Regions from separate parts of the Homo sapiens genome. Here region 1 is linked to region 2. A link means that fine-mapping ties the variant in region 2 to the expression of a gene that starts in the linked region. Tissue or cell type: gastroesophageal junction. Region 2 holds a variant in brackets; the other region holds the start of a gene. All regions are shown on one strand. Distances are from middle to middle.

Region 1 (8,000 bases), 140 kb after region 2:
TGTCCTCATAAAAGGAGACACCAGGCTGGGGCAGTGGCTCTTGCCTGTAATCCCAGCACTTTGGGAGGCTGCAGTGGGAGGATTGTTTCAGCCTAGGAGTTCAAGACCAGCCTGGGCAACATAGTGAGACCCCCATCTCTATAAAATAAATTAAAAAATTAAAAAAATTCAAGAACAACGCATTTGTTACTATGGGTCTTACTGAGCTAAAATCAAGATGTTGGCAGGCTATGTTATTTTGTGATGCTCTAGGGGAAAATCCATTTTCTTGCCAGCTTCTAGAGGCTGCCAGCATTCCTTGGCTGGTGGTTCCCTTCCATCTTCAAAGCCAGTGATGATCCGGGTAAGTTTTCTTACATCACATCACTCTGACACTGACTCTTCTGGTTAGGGTTACATTGGGCCCACCTCGATAATACAGGATAATCTCTCTATTTTTAAGGTTAGTGATTAGCAACCTTAATTCCCCCTTGCTGTGTAACATAACATATTCACAGGCTCCAGGGATTAGCATGGGGCAAATATAGGAGGCTATCATTCTCCCTACCAAAAAGTGGTAACAGCAGTACTGACAGATGACAACTATGTGATATACGTATGTTAGAAATAATTAGGGCAATTACATAACAATTCTCTCTCTATGTATACAGTTTGTAACAATTACAATGTGCCCACTACTACACTAAATACTTGATATGGTTTGGATCTGTGTCCCCACCAAATCTCTTGTTCAACTGTAGTTCCCAGTGTTGGAGATGGGGCCTGGTGGAGGTGGCTGGATCATGGGGGTGGATTTCTCCCATGATGATGAATGGCCTAGCACCATCTTCTTGGTGCTGTTCTTGTGATAGTGAGTTCTCAAGAGATCTGGTTGTTTGAAAGTGTGCAGCACCTCCCTGCTCACTCTCTTTTGCTCCTGCTCCCGCCATGTGGGACGCCTTGCTCCCTCTTTGCCCTCCATCATGATTGGAAGCATCCTGAGGCCCCGCCAGAAGCAGAAGCCGCTATGCTTTCTGTACAGCTTGCAGAACCGTGAGCCAAATAAATCTCTTTTCTTTATAAATTACCCAGTCTCAGGTATTTGTTTATAGCAGAGCAAGAACAGACTAACACAGCACTTTACAACATTAGCTCAAACAACTCTATGCATATTATTATTATGCTCTTTTTACAGATGAAGAAATTGAGGCACAGAGGTTAATTAGCTTGCTCAGGGTCACCTAGCCAGTAAATGGGAGCTTGAACCCCAGTTCCAGAGCCTGCTCTTAAACACCATGCCACGCAGCCTCTCAGGAAATAGGGTATCTTAAAGGGGCAACTTACCTAAGAACAGGACTAAGCACTTTCATTTAGGGAGCACATGAACTGACTCATTTACACTACATAGATAACTGCCAATATTCGGACTCTTCTTTTGTTGGGCATCTGCAGTCTGATTAATGAGAGATTAATTAATAGTCTGTGTTTGCTGAGGGTCACTTTGACCAGGCCAAATGAAGAATATATTAAAACATACAATATCCTATGTGTACCTGACACATAGAAAGTGCTCAGACAAGCAAAATGCTGGTGCTGGTGAAGCACAGATAAGTAAGTCAGTATCTATCTCTAAGCAATTTGTGAAGCATATGTTCTGAGGAAGGCATTGAACTAACCAGCCATTCTTCATTCTAAGCATGACTGGAGAAGGTTGGAAACAGATGAGAGGGTCTTTGAGGCCAGTGCTTCTCAAACTTTAATGTGCACACAAATCACCCAGGGATCTTGTTAAAATGCAGATTCTGATTCCATAGGTCTGGAGCAAAGCTGCAGAGCCTCTAACAAGCTCCCAGGTGATCCTGATGCTGCTGTCTGTAGGCCACGCTTTTGGGCAGCAAGGTCCTGAGCCTGCAATGTTATTTCCCCACCGAAAATGTACGGTCATTCATTTATTCGGACACCAGCTGTCAAGTGCTGCCAGGCTAAGTGCTAAGGATAAATAAAACAGATACATAAACAGAACTCTCTGCTCTTAAGGAGTTCACAGTCAAGGCACTGCTGAGTTTCTCTAAATTCCACAAATCAAGGGCAATGTCCAATACAAAATGAACTCGATCAAAGACAAAACCCTTACAGAACTGTGTGCAGAGTGAGAACAGATACACAGGTTGCGCTGGAAGCAACAATAATGTTGAGATGAATACCTCTCTCTTCAAGGACTCAACAGACGACTCAAGCTACAATAAAACCGGATATTCCTGAGAAGCAGAGTGGGTGAGGGACAAAACTAGGTGTCAAGGCAACTTCAAAGCCAACAAAACCCCATGGACACGGAACCATGCCTATATATCATTTCTGGGTCCCTCTATTCAGTATGGCAATGTGCAATAAGACTTGCTAGCATTCGTGAGAGTCAGGCATAAACAAAAAGCTATATAAAAGGAGCAGTCAAGAAAGTGGTGTCTGATGAGAGAAGCAGCTAGATGGTTGTGGACATACTGAGTATGAGAGCTGAATGGAGGCAGGGTGGGGGATTTCTTATCAAGGTCCGAACCCTTTAGTTTAGGAGGAAACTAAAATCCAAAGCAACATTTGATTTGGATTGCAAGCAGCAGTTGTCAACCGGGGCAATTTTGCTCCTTCAGGGGACATTTAGCAATGTCTGAAGACATTTTTGATTGTTACAACGGATGGAGTGCTACTGGCATCCAGTGGGAAGAGGTCAGAGACGCTGTTAAAAATCCTGCAAGGCACAGGACAGCCCACTACAACCAAAAATCATCTGCCCCAAAATGTGAATGGTGCAGAGGCTGAGAAACCCTGAGTTAAGGAATTTGCCCCAGGTTAACGAATGAATGTCACACCACGGAATAGATTAGAGCAGTCCAATAGAGCATTCTGCAATGATGGAAACAGTCTATAATCTGTGCTGCCCTATATAGCAGCCAATAGCTACATGTGGCTATTGAACACTTGAAATACGGGTAGTGTGACTGAGAAACTAAAGTTTAATCTTTAATAATTTAAATTTATAATAGCTACGCACGGCCAACGGCTACTCTACTGGACAGAACAGAAATACAATTCACCTTTTCTGACTCGCAGACTGGTATTCTTCCAGTTTCACAGCCTGCTTCTTTCCAATTTTCTGAAATCACTCACTCACTTGACTTTAACACTAAAATGTGACTGGGAAAAAACCCACAAAAGTAAAATAATACTGCAGAAAAAAAAATAAATAAAACATCCCCAGTTAAACTTTCGCTGTTTTGTACATTGGGAAATAAAGTAAAATATCAGATCATTGTTACACATACATGTAACAAGACTGCAGAAGCAAGAAAGGTCAAATTATTTCTACTTCCACTTGCAGGGAAGGGTGTTATAACACAGATAAAACAAAAAACTCTCTGAGCCTTGAGATCACGAGTTTTCCGACCTGATTTCTCTACTTGGTCACTAACAATCTCCTTCACTTCTCAGAAGCTGGGTAAGAAACCAGGCTGGTCAGCATCACCTGCAAATTCTCCGGCTTCTGACTTCTCTCTCACCACAGAGACAACTCTCTGATTTGCTGGTTTGGGTGGCACCGCACCGAAGACTCACCATGTGCCATGCACTGTGCAAAGCACTACCCATACATGATGTCACTTCATTCTCACTGCAGCCCTTTGTGGCACCGGGAGGTTAAAAAGCTGGGACCAAATCACACAGCCAGTCAGGAGTAAAGCAGGGACTCCCAGATATGGCTCCCAATCTGCTCTTAAACACTGCGCTAAGGTAAGGGCCTAAAACCTGGGAAAGTAACCCTGGCTGGGAAGGCGTGAGAAGTCCCCCTGGGGAGCAGAGCAGTCAGGGGCTGCATAGCCAGGGAGGGGTCCTGGCGGCTCTTACTTCTCGATCTCCAGCGCTGCCACCTTCCGCTTTTCGTACAGCTTGTCATTGAGGGCGCGCACGATGTTAGGCGTGAGCGGCGCGAAATCCTTCTCGGGGTTCATGGTGGCAGCTGGGGGAACCTCGCGACTCCTTAGCCCGCGGCTGCCGGGGCCGCGCCGGGGCCAGGGGAGTCTGCGGCTCCGCTCTGCCCCCGGCGCCGGCGCATGGACCACGCCGCTCTAGGCTTGCCTGCCACGCTCCGCCGCCTCGCCCTGGAACCCGGGCCCGGACCCCGCTCCAGCACACCTGACCCTGGCCGCTTAACAACTCCCGCCCGGCACTAGCGGGACTCACGAGACAGCGGCCATGTTACTCGAGTCACATGACTCTACAGCACTTCCGCCTTCCGTCGCGAGGGCCCGCCCCTCTCCAGCCACGCCCCCACCGCAGGCCGCAGGTGGATTGGCCACGCCCTCGGAAGGCTCCACCCACACTGCACACACTATCGCGCTGCGCGCCAGGTAGCTGGAGTGTGGTTTGAGACGTGCTTTAATGGGTGTGTAGCTCACGCCCAACTGATGGCACGTGGTGGGCTTCTGTAGACGTTCGTAAGACCGAATGGGTTCTTGGAGTCTGATTCACTTAACATAATTTATTCAATAGTCACCGAATTCACTAGTTCATTCAGTAGTTGGTCACTTACCAATTTCCTAGATGCAGACGTTTCCCTAACTGCAGTAACACTGTCATCACTTTCACCATATTCTAGCCACTTGTATTATCTATTTAATGTTTTCCTCAAATCAACTCACTTTAAAAAATACCTTAAATCTCTTTTAGCTTTGCTTATGCCCTAAAACCATGAGTTTGAATAGGTATATTTTTTCTAAGACACATCAAAATAAATTCTCAATTAAAAATGGCACTACCTGTCTACCACCTAAGATCTCAGGTACCACCAGTGTCTGTCACTCCACCATTTGGGGGTGTGTTTAACATGCTCTGATGCCTAGGAGGGCTGGTTACAGACAGAGAGAAAGGCCCCAGATCTGCTGAGTGCGGGTCTCTAGATAGGTCCCCTGGAAAGCAGCCCCTTCAGCTGCTTCGGGAATCACATTACATGGTGAGACAGAAATCCCAACTATGTGGCAAAATATTTAAAAGCAATTTATGGCCGGAGTGTGGTAAACATGCAGTTAACAGGGAGGTGCATCAGCCTTTCCTATCATAAGCTTTCAGAGTGAACAGGGACTTAGGACAAGGGCTAGATTACAGTGGAGCTCAAAGAATAACAGTTTCAGAATGCATGGTGATACTTTTCTTTAATGAATGAAAAGTGCATATATAGGCCTTATAACAGTCTTGAAAATGGAGTATTTTCCTCAACAGAAACAGGGACGCAATGAGTAAAGGGCAAAAGTAGGCAGAATTCTAGGATGACCTCCAATATTCCCACCCCTTCGTGTTCATGCCCTGTATTATGCCCTCTTTCAGCGTGAACAAGACTTGTAAATATGATGGGCTATGCATCACTCACATGATTATATTATGTAATATCGCAGAAGAGATTTTGCAGATGTAATTAAGGTCCCTAATCAGCAGACATTGAATTAATAAAAAGAGAGATTAACTTGAGTCGGCCTGACCGAATCAAGTGAGTACTTAAAAGAGATTAGAAGAAATTTGAACTGGAAGAGAGACTCTCCTGTAAGGAGTTTAGTCATATGGCCACAAAGGAATGAATTTTGCCAACACATTGAGGGTCCTTGGAAGCAGATCTTTCCCTAGTTGAGCCTCCTGATGAGGATGCAGCTGGCCAGCACCTTGATTTCAGCCTTGTGGAACCCTGAGCTGAGAATCCAGTTCACACTGGGCTCTCAACCCATGGAAACTGTGAGATAATAAATTTGTGTTGTTTTGCTCTCCTAGTTTTGTGGTAATTTGTTATGCAGCCATAGAAAATGAATACAAAGGCTAATCCAAAACTCGGCAAGTCATGGATATATCATGTCTAGAAAAATCCATAAAAAATGTATTCTCCTATACAGGTGGGGTTTTCATAGTTGTTAAAACCTTTGCTGACACAATCCTATGAATGAAGGTAGGTGCGCTAACAAGTAGTAGTAGTGCTGCCAAGGACATCTCCAAATGTCTTGCAAAGTTTGGTTTTAGGATTTTGATGATGGTTGATGAAAAACACTGAAAAAATGTAAATCAATGGGAATGATTTGGTTCTATTTCTCCAATGTGTGTGCATTTCCACGGGACGCATATCTAATATATTTCATGTTTCTTTTGCTTTTTGGTTTGGCTTTTTCTTAGAGGTGAACTGAATTTCCCAAGGGTAATGATACAGTTTTTAATAATTCAAACAATAAGGAATTTTTTTTTTACCAGAAGTATTCTTTTCTCCTGAAATTATATTCTGGCTCAGGTTGCTAAGTAACCAGTTTTTTATTCAAGGCCCAGACCAATGCCTACCTTTAGGTCAGAAGTTCCTAGAAAGAAGTGGTTCTTTTCTCTAATATCTTGAAAAATGCCAACTAGGTAAGATTATTTATGCATAATTGAGCTAGCAGTGGTGGTAAAAATAAAGCCCAAAGGCTACCCTTGCCTTCCACCCTTGTTCCTCTTCTCTGACCTGTGACCATTCCTGTTGAAACTCTTCTAGACTAGGGGATAACTGATGTGCCTGACTGCATACTAGTCATTATTTCACAGTTACAATTCATCTGCATCTGTGTGATGCTTGGTTGTTATGCTAGAACTTGTAATAGTTCTGTAACAACTATTCATAATAGCTATTACAAGTATGTAAAAGTTATGACATAACTTGTAGCAAGAGGCTGCTGATGACATTGTAAGAAATTGTACCAAAATCTTGAACTGTGCAAAGCAGTTTCTCCAACAGCAATGTAATTGTAGCTGGAGTTTCAGGGCAACAGGGTTTAAGGTATTAGGTAGAGGTCTTGAAATGTAGCAGGCCCTCACCAATGTTACAGTATTGTCACCTCTGACTTGAGGCTCCTAAAGAAGTGGTTAGACTTAGCATGCCACACTCACTGGGGGCCCAGTGTGGAACGAGGCCAGGGAGCCCCATTCCCATGGTATTCTGTGCACAGTGCTCCTTGGAGTTCTGCCACACAGCTACCCTGACATTTTCTGAACATCCCCCAGTTAGAAGTCTCCTGGTCTGCTTTGCTGAGAATGGATTCTCCAATGTAACTTCCACAAGCATGTGTTGGAAGGGTTATTTTCATCAAGCCTGCTGTTAAGCTACTTTGCCATTCCAAATTTGCTAATATAAGACTATTTTGTTATTGTTTGAGGCTAAGGAAGCACGAGAAAAACCTAAAGGGAAGAAATGCACCCAATCTCAAACCAGCCTGGAAGAGGGTTCACACTGGGGCAGGATCTGAGCTTGGCTCTTGGTCCCAGGGAGAAGGAACTTCCTCCTCTCTCAGGGGCTAGGAGGATTTGGACCCTAGACTCAGTGGTGTTATAGGACCAACACGTTTGTGTGCCCACTGTGCAGTAACAGACCAATGCACAGAGACAGTGGGGATGCAGCAGAGAAAGTGATGATCAAAGGTCACTGAGTGATGAGATGGGAGGAGACCCTCAAATCCATCTCCCGGAAGAGTTCTGGACTGGGGTTTTTAAGGGGATCCTGGAGGGTGAAGGGCTGAAAAACCAGGTGACTGATTGGTTGGGTAAGACGGATGAAATCATCAGGATGTGGAAACCGCATTCTTTGGTGAATCAGCTTCTCGTGAGGTCCTTCAGATCAGCTGATGTCAGTTGTTTCACTGGTACACAGGACCAAGAATAAATATCTCAAACGGAAAACTTAACGTTTCCTAATGTTCAAGTTGTTATCTCCAGAGCATTGAGGGGAACTATGATCTTTAGCAGGGTCTACGTGATTCTGAAACAGCAGGCACCAAACAGCTATGAGGAAGCAGGTCTGAGCGCAGGCTGATCTAGTGATTAATGCTGAGTGTGCTGCAACCTGGGTTCGTTTTTGTTTCTCCCCCTCCCTTCTCCCTGATCACTTTTATAAAATGTATATGGACAGCTTCAGTGGCTTGGGGAAGCACTGGAACAGGTCTGAAGTTGGGGGAGTTGCCCCTAGCCACCCCAAG
Region 2 (8,258 bases):
TGGGGTGTGTGTGTGTGCACACGTGTGTACATGTGTGTGAGGTGTGGCCAAAGGCTAGTGAGGGAAAGGGTGAATACACGGAAAGATGGGCACAAGCAGAGGGACGTGGGAGAAGTGGGGGAGGGGTGCAGGAAAAGAGGCCTGTGGAAGGAAGAGGCAGCCGTGGTGGTCATGAGAGCCGGGCTCGGGGTGCAGGCGATGCCTCTGAGACTCTGTTCTAGGCTCTGCCTCTCTCCCTCTGGATCCTGGGCAAGTCATCGTACCCTCTTTGTTTCTGCAACACGAGGGTCCTGGAGGTGGGGTAGGGGGAGAGGGGAAGAATGGATGGAGCACAGGGAATGTTTAGGGCAGTAAAACATGCTGCAGGCCGGGCGCGGCGGCTCATGCCTGTAATCCCAGCACTTTGGGAGGCCGAGGTCAGGAGTTTGAGACCAGCCTGGCCAAATGGTGAAACCCCGTCTCTACTAAAAATACAAAAATAAGCCAGTCCTGGTGGTGGGCACCTGTTATCCCAGCTACTCAGGAGGCTGAGGCAGGAGAATCGCTTGAACCTGGGAGGCAGAGGTTGCAGTGAGCTGAGATTGCACCATTGCACTCCAGCTTGGGCAACAAGAACGAAAAACTCCATCTCAAAACAAAAAACAAAAAACTATGCTGTATAATGCATTCATGTTGTATACATGACATCATGCATTTGTCACAACCCACAGAACTGTACAACAGAGAGTGTGAGCCCTAATGTAAATTATGGACTTTAGTTAATTAAAAAAAGAGGTCCCCCATCCCTGACCCGCTCAGAGAAATTGATCTGAGGCCTCAGGGATATTATCCTCTAAAATGCCTGAGTTGTAGTAAAAAAGGAAGGTGGCGAGATGACCCATGCAGGCCGTGTGTGCGGTGGGACCTCTCCCCGTCTCCACCAGACCTCCTCAGGACTCTGGTGCACACCTGTCCCTGGGATCCACCTGCTGCCCTGCCCAGCCAGCTGCTGACAAGGCCCAGCTTGTCGGGAGAACATCCCAGGCCAACTGTGAGCTTCCGACGGTGAAAGGGCTTAGGGACTAGCACCTGTTTTGCAGCTGCCTGGAGCTTTCCTGGAACCAGACTGGTGGGGAGGCTGTCAATTCCTACAAAGTCAGGAGACTCCTTGATCTGCTTGGTGGCTCTTTTTCCTGTTTATTTCATTTTATTTCTTTTTTATTGTTTTAGAGATGGGGGTCTCGCTATGTTGCCCAGGCTGGTCTTGAACCCCTGGCCTCAAGTGATCTTTCTGCCTCAGCCTCCCAAAGTCCTGGGATTACAGGACTGGGATTACATCCTGCCTGGCCTCTGTGGTGGCTTTTTTTGTTTTTTTGAGGCGGAGTCTCACTGTGTCGCCCAGGTGCATTGCAGTGGGGCAATCTTGGCTCACTGCAACCTCCGTCTCCCAGGTTCAAGCAATTCTCCTGCCTCAGCCTCCCAAGTAGCTGGGATTATAGATGCCTGCCACCACACCTGTATTTTTAGTAGAGACGGGGTTCTGCCATGTTGGTTAGGCTGGTCTTGAACTCCTGGCCTCAAGTGATATGCCTCCCTCAGCCTCCCAAAGTGCTGGGATTACAGGTTGAACCACCATTCCTGGCCGTCTCAGTCTTTTCATGGCCTTCTGCCCTGTTTCCATGTCTGTCACCTTTCTCTTACAAGGACATCAGGCATTGGATTTAGGGCCTACCTGAAATCCAGGATGATGTCCTTCTAAGATCCTGAACTTAATTACCTCTGCAAAGAACCTATTTCCAAATAGGGTCACATTCACGGGTACCAAGGGGTAGGACCAAGACAGCTTTTTGGGGGAGGAGAGGGACAATTTGGCCCAGGACATGTTGCCTTGTTGTCACCCCCTTCCAGAAGATCACCCCCCACGTTTCCCATGATGCTTTCTACAGTGGCCCTGACCTCCTGTTCAGGGACTTGATTCCCTTGGTGCCACGGTGCACCCCACATGACCCTGTTGTTGCATATCGTGGAGAGAAAGCACCCCAGCTTGAAGCTGGACACCCTGCCCTGTGTATGTGACTTAAGCCTCAGTGTCTCTGTGAGGACCTTCTCTTGTTCCTTGGAGTTGATGGAGATGTCTGCTTCTTGAGGGACAGTTTTCCCCAGGTCAGGGGGTCCTCACGCAGTGGTGGGTGGCCGTGCCTGGGTGCAGTTTGCCCCACTTTCCTCACTGTCCTGGTCTACGCCCTTTACTCATTTTTCAAGGATGGAAAAGCGAAGCCTCTGAGTTGTACATGGGTGAGTGGTGGCATCTGGGACCCTCCCCATGCCCACAGGAAGAAGATGGTGAGAAATAGCTATCCAGGCTCATGGTCACAGGAAGTCTGGTCCTTCTTCCGGGGTTTGGGCAGCTCCAGGTGACTGGACAGCCCTCACGGCTCTCCTGGGGTGCGGCCCCATCTCGCCACCGCTCCTGACTGTTTCCTCCTTTCCAGGATGTGGAGGTCAGCCCCAAGGTGGAATCCGTGTTGTCCCTCTTGAATGCCCCAGGGCCAAACCTGAAGCTGGTGCGGCCCAAAGCCCTGCTGGACAACTGCTTCCGGGTCATGGAGCTGCTGTACTGCTCCTGCTGTAAGGAGCTCTCAGGGGATGGCGCCTGGGGGTGGGAGGCCAGGCATCTGGGCCCACCCAGGCCAGCTGGCAGAGCTGGCGTCCTCCCGGGCATATCCTCTGCTCCCCGGGGCTACAAGCCATTTCTGGAAGCCAGGATGGGCCCTGGGTAGAGTGGGGGACAAGCACATGCGGCTTGGCTTAGTGGGGAGGGTGGTCTTGAACACTGCTGCAGTCTTTTTTTTTTTCCCCTATCTCTTGCAGGTAAACAAAGCTCCGTCCTAAACTGGCAGGACTGTGAGGTGCCAAGTCCTCAGTCTTGCAGCCCAGAGCCCTCATTGCAGTATGCGGCCACCCAGCTGTACCCTCCGCCCCCGTGGTCCCCCAGCTCCCCGCCTCACTCCACGGGCTCGGTGAGGCCGGTCAGGGCACAGGGCGAGGGCCTCTTGCCCTGAGCACCCTGGATGGTGACTGCGGATAGGGGCAGCCAGACCAGCTCCCACAGGAGTTCAACTGGGTCTGAGACTTCAAGGGGTGGTGGTGGGAGCCCCCCTTGGGAGAGGACCCCTGGGAAGGGTGTTTTTCCTTTGAGGGGGATTCTGTGCCACAGCAGGGCTCAGCTTCCTGCCTTCCATAGCTGTCATGGCCTCACCTGGAGCGGAGGGGACCTGGGGACCTGAAGGTGGATGGGGACACAGCTCCTGGCTTCTCCTGGTGCTGCCCTCACTGTCCCCCCGCCTAAAGGGGGTACTGAGCCTCCTGTGGCCCGCAGCAGTGAGGGCACAGCTGTGGGTTGCAGGGGAGACAG[C/G]CAGCACGGCGTGGCCATTCTATGACCCCCCAGCCTGGCAGACTGGGGAGCTGGGGGCAGAGGGCGGTGCCAAGTGCCACATCTTGCCATAGTGGATGCTCTTCCAGTTTCTTTTTTCTATTAAACACCCCACTTCCTTTGGTTTGCTTTGCTTTGCATCTTCAGGGGTGAACCTGGCGGGGATGGGAGGTGGCCAAGTGCAGGAAGTGGAGGGGGGCAGGGCTGAGGATGCGGATTTGGAGTGGATGGAGCCTGCCCAAGGGATGTGGAATGAGAGGGATGCCAGGGATGGAGTTCCGGCCCAGCCCAGCCCAGCCCAGCCCAGCCCAGCCCAGCCCAGCCCAGCCCAGGGGCCTCTGCAAGCCTGGGTTGGGGGAGGCGGTGTTGGGCTGATACCTTGGCTTTGACCCTTGCCATCCTCCCTCCCTCCCTCCCTCTCTCCCTCCCTCCCTCTCTCCCTCCCTCCCTCCATCTGGCTGCCCCCAGGCAGCCCCTAGCAGGGACACATATGGGACATTTCAGAGACCCAGGTCTGGCCCTGGCACCTACATTGAGATCTGAGATCCTCTGGGAACCCCCAGCCTGTCCCCCTGCAGCTGGGATCTGGGGTGGGAAAGGTGAGGTGTGGGGATGGGGTAGGAAGCAGCCAGGCAGAGGCAGGGGTGTTAATTACAGTACACCTTTATTAATACTGGAATCTTCACAGTGCATCTGTTACTTGTAGCAGTGACTATATTTAAATCGGGGAGGATGGTGTGGAGGGGGCGGGGAGGAGAGGAGAATTTTTCCAAAATCTGACGGAAAGAAAAGAAACAAATGGTTCAGATGGGACGGAGGGTGGGGGAGGGGGGGAGGGTGAGTAGGAACCAGGAGGGCTGCCTGGGGTGGGGGAATAAATTAAAAAAAGGAACGAGTTAACAACAGCACCAGGAAAGTTACTTCAGTCAAAAGACGCTTTTGAAAAGAATATTTCTCCGTACAAAATGAGAAATTAAACGAACGTAAAGTCCCCCAAACCAAAGTTTGTGATGTGGGATGGTTGGCTCGGATCCCGAGGTGGGTGGGCCTATGAGGTGGTTGCTAAGTCGACGCAAGGGCGGCGGGGGTGGTCTCAGGGATGGACAAGGGGATGGAGTAGAGTATGTACAGCCCCCGGGGCTCACAGGGGAGGGGGACGGCGGAGTCGGTGGGGGCTGTGCCACACGAGCCCCCCTCTCTGGGTAGCCCCTGCCTCCTTTCCCATCAGGACCTCTGACGCCCAGGTCTGCCCACCCACTGCCCCTCACTCTATTCCCACCACATCCTGAATCCTGCTCCACCGCCCTGCCTCGGAAGACCCCTGCAGCCCTGGGGAGAATGTGTGGCGGAAATTCTACCCAAGACTCCCCAAATAATTGGTCACCTGCTCTCCTGGCCCCTAAAACCGGGGCTCTGGTGTTGGCCTGAGCTCCACGGGCTGAGTGCTCGGCCAGGCAGTTGTTGAACCTAGTGACTTACTTACAGGGACCATTCTTCATCAGCTCCCTCTGATGGGACTCTGTCCACATCAGGGCCTGCTTGGTGCCCGGACCTACCCAGGAGCTGCCCAGCTCACCGCACAAGAACTCCCAGGAGCTCAAGCCTGGGAGGCTCAGACCCAGCTCCATTCTATCAATCAATCAATCAATCATCAAGACCAAGGTGCTCCTGACCCCCAGGTAGGACCCTGCCCTGGGGCCACGATGCCCTCTGAGCCCTGCTTTCCCTCCTGACCTGCGGGGCCACCAGGACTCCCTCCGCTCGCCCTAGGCTCACGTGCTTTTACCTGCTGAGACTTGGCGTGACTTGGTGCGTGGGGTGGGGGCAGCCTTGCCCCTCCCCTTGCCCCCGCTGCCACCACGAGCCTGGACTACAGTGGGGGCCGTGCTGGGATGGCATCTCCTCCGGCAACAGAGAGTCAAAGCCAATCTTCCCAGACTCGCTCCCCCACCTGGGCTTGCAGCCAGCTCAGACCACAGCAGACAGGCCGGGAGCCTCCCAACCTTATTTTGGCTACGCTCGAGACACTGGAGAGAACAGTAGCTTCCACCGGGCTCTGGGGGAGCCAAGTCCCTCCCTTCTCATCCTGCCATAGGACCACCGGGGGGTCCCTGTCCCCCAGGCACTCCCAGACACACACCCTGTATCGTCCCCTCTCCCCCACACTTAGTCCTCGTCCACAGTCAGCTCCATTTTATTATATTCATAAAATGACCCCACACCTCCTACTGCTCCAGTCACCCCCCGAAAGGTGGCTAAAACTGTGACCCCCAAAGTTAAAAGATTGATGTACCCAATGAGAAGTGGACATCTGAAAACGGTGCCTGTGTGGCTGGCCGGTGACCCCAGGGCCTCCGGCCTCCTAACCCTGCTGCCCTAGTTTCCAAAGAGCTGCTCTGGCCCCCTCCAGCCAGCCTCACGGGGTGGGGGAGGCGAGGGGTGGGAGCCACCACAGGGCCCCCAAGACCCCCCCCCCCAAGCAGCCCCTGGTTTCCTCCCTGAGACTTGGCGTGGGCCCTGGAACTCCCTTCCCACACGGGGGGCCTGGCCGCCCAACTCCAACCTGCCGCCCTGGCCCCCAGCCCCCAGCAGACATCCAGCCCAGCGTGCACCTGGCCCCTCCACAGCCGCCCCGCCTCCTGGAGGGAGAGGGGCCTGGGAGAGGCAGAGAGAAGGCAAGAGGGGAGGAGGGGGCTCAGGCAGGGGAGAGGGGGGCCAGCATTCCAGGAGGAGCTGAGGCAGGACCAGCCCTGGGAGAGGCCGGGATGGTGAAAGGGAGGCCAGCCTGGCCCCTCTGTCATGGGCAGCGGCCCTGGCTCTGGTGCTTATGGGTAGGGAAGAGGCAGGGCCCCAGAGGAGGAAGAGGAGGGACCGAAGAGCATAAAACAGACCCCGAACCAGGCCCAGGCCTGCAGGCTCCGTCCTGGCCAGGCTTGCTAAGAAGTCACTTCCTGTTTAAATGCTGGAATCCAAGTGAGGTGTCTTTCCATAAAGTGGCATGGCCTCTGCCCTGGCTCTGTCCTCTCTCCTGGCTGGGCCTTTGCTCTGAGTGCCTGCGGCTCACAGACCAGGCCACCTGCTCGCACTGGGGCCTGAGAGGATGGGGAGGGTGGCGCCATCATAAGATGCGGGGCGCCGACCTGTCGTTGGTGACGGTCCTGCGGAGCCGGACCCCACGCCGGATGGCCACCAGCATGTCTTCGGCCGGGGGGTCGCTGGTGGCGGCTGGGGGTGGGGTGGGCGTCTCCTCCGTGGGGGTGGCCGACAGAGCAGTGGGGAAGGGGAACTGGCCCTCACCCAGTGCGTGGGCACCCGCCACCAGCTCCCCCAGCTTCTCCACCAGGCTGTGCCGGTTGGCCGCCAGCTGCTGCTGCTCGTCCTCGGCCCCTGCCCCGGGGTACCCGGCTGCCTCTGGGGATGGGCTGCCCCAGGCTGTGTTGGGCAGGCTGAGCCTCTTTGGGGAGGCCTTGGCGAGGTCCGGTGCCAGGGGTGAGGCGGTCTCGTCGGTATAGAAGACGCACTCCTCACTGCCCGCCCGTGTGGGCCCCATGTAGCCGGGGGAGTCAGGCACCGTGGGCGTCTTCACAGGGACGATGGGCGGCCGGATGGGGATGGGGCCAGCGCTGGACAGGGCGCGGCGCACGGTGGGCTTGGTGGAGGGTGTGCGGCGGATGGTGGCCACGCCGGGGGGTGCGCCCGAGGGCAGGCCAGTGGCCGTGGGCAGCCCCGCGGTGGGCAGCCCAGCAGTGGAGGCTGGGCGCTTGGTCTGGATCAGGCGGCGGTAGTTCTGGGCGATGTTGCTGTTGCGCGGGATGGTGGATGACTTGTCAAACTCGGGCGGGCCCTCGCTGTCCGCATCCCCATTCACGGAGTAGCAGTCGTAGTCGGAGCCTGGGGGCACGGGACACAGTGAGGCCCAGGGCCCAGGTGGCCCCTTGCCCCCAGCCCACCAGGGTGAGCACAGAGGGGGAAGGACGGGGCCCTCCTGGATGGCTAAGTCCCAGCTGTCCCTGGTCCCACCCCAGCCCCGCGGGCCTGCCTTGGGAGGGGATGGTGTCCTCAGAGCAGGAGGGCGTGGTGGTCTGCGTGCTGTAGCCGCTGGAGTACTGCAGCGAGTCCCGGCTGCTCTTCTGGTGCTCCAGGCTCAGGCCCCGCGTCAGCACCATGGCCAGGTCACTGGCGGCGGGGGACACCTCCTCACCGTGCTGAGGGTGGGAAAGTGCAGGCTGAAGCCTTGCGCCCCCAATCCCCTCTGCCCAAATTCCAGGCAGCCCTGCCAGGTGGTTGGAGCCGGCCCTGAGGCCACTGGCTGGGCCTCCTGGGACTGACCTGGGCGTGAAGGGGGGCCCTGGCCAGCCTACCTTGGCTGCGATGGTGGCAGGGGACATCCGGGGTCGCGGTGCCTCTTCCCCGCTGGGGCCCAGGGTGCCCCCACTGGCAGGGCCTGGCTCTGTGTCTCGCAGGAGCTCCACTCGGTCCTTCCTCCGCTGCAGAGTGGCGCCTGAGGGCTGCTCATGGGAGCCGACCTTGGACCAGTCCTGCAGGGAGGGTGTGGCAGGTCAGGGGGACCACTGGCCCTACCACCTATGGCCCGGGGGCCCGTCACTGTGGCTGAGGCTCAGGGTGTCCAGGGCTATCAGGGGGTCTCTGGTTCGCAATCACAGCCAAGGGCAGAGCATGGAGTGTGACTGTGGCCCCTCAGTCCCACCAGGCCCAGGGGTAAGATGTGGCTGTGTGGGCAGTGACTGTAGGAAATGGCCAGGTGGCTTGTCTCTTGGGGACAGGTGCTGTGTGCACGCACCCCTGGCTGAACCCAGGCCCTTTGTGCAGTAATGGCACCAGGTGG

The links. PIP is the estimated chance that this variant, and not a neighbour inherited with it, causes the effect.
Region 1: VAC14 starts here. The variant in region 2 is fine-mapped to the expression of VAC14 in gastroesophageal junction (GTEx, PIP 0.99).

What each region holds. Positions count from the first base shown.
Region 1 is chr16:70,796,924-70,804,923 of GRCh38, forward strand. It overlaps VAC14 (VAC14 component of PIKFYVE complex), which reads right to left and starts at 4,235. Exons shown (of 19, transcript NM_018052.5): 1 at 3,874-4,235. The coding sequence starts at 3,977. It overlaps HYDIN (HYDIN axonemal central pair apparatus protein), which reads right to left. Exons shown (of 86, transcript NM_001270974.2): 86 at 5,161-8,000. RefSeq lists enhancers at 3,921-4,543, 4,211-4,270 and a silencer at 3,941-4,130.
Region 2 is chr16:70,657,147-70,665,404 of GRCh38, forward strand. It overlaps IL34 (interleukin 34), which reads left to right. Exons shown (of 6, transcript NM_001393494.1): 5 at 2,472-2,607; 6 at 2,851-3,536. The coding sequence ends at 3,041. It overlaps MTSS2 (MTSS I-BAR domain containing 2), which reads right to left. Exons shown (of 15, transcript NM_138383.3): 13 at 7,774-7,950; 14 at 7,452-7,617; 15 at 4,058-7,303. The coding sequence ends at 6,531. Among named protein-coding and RNA genes, the nearest start is that of IL34, 15 kb to the left of the region's middle. The variant C/G (reference allele first, on the strand shown) is at 3,395.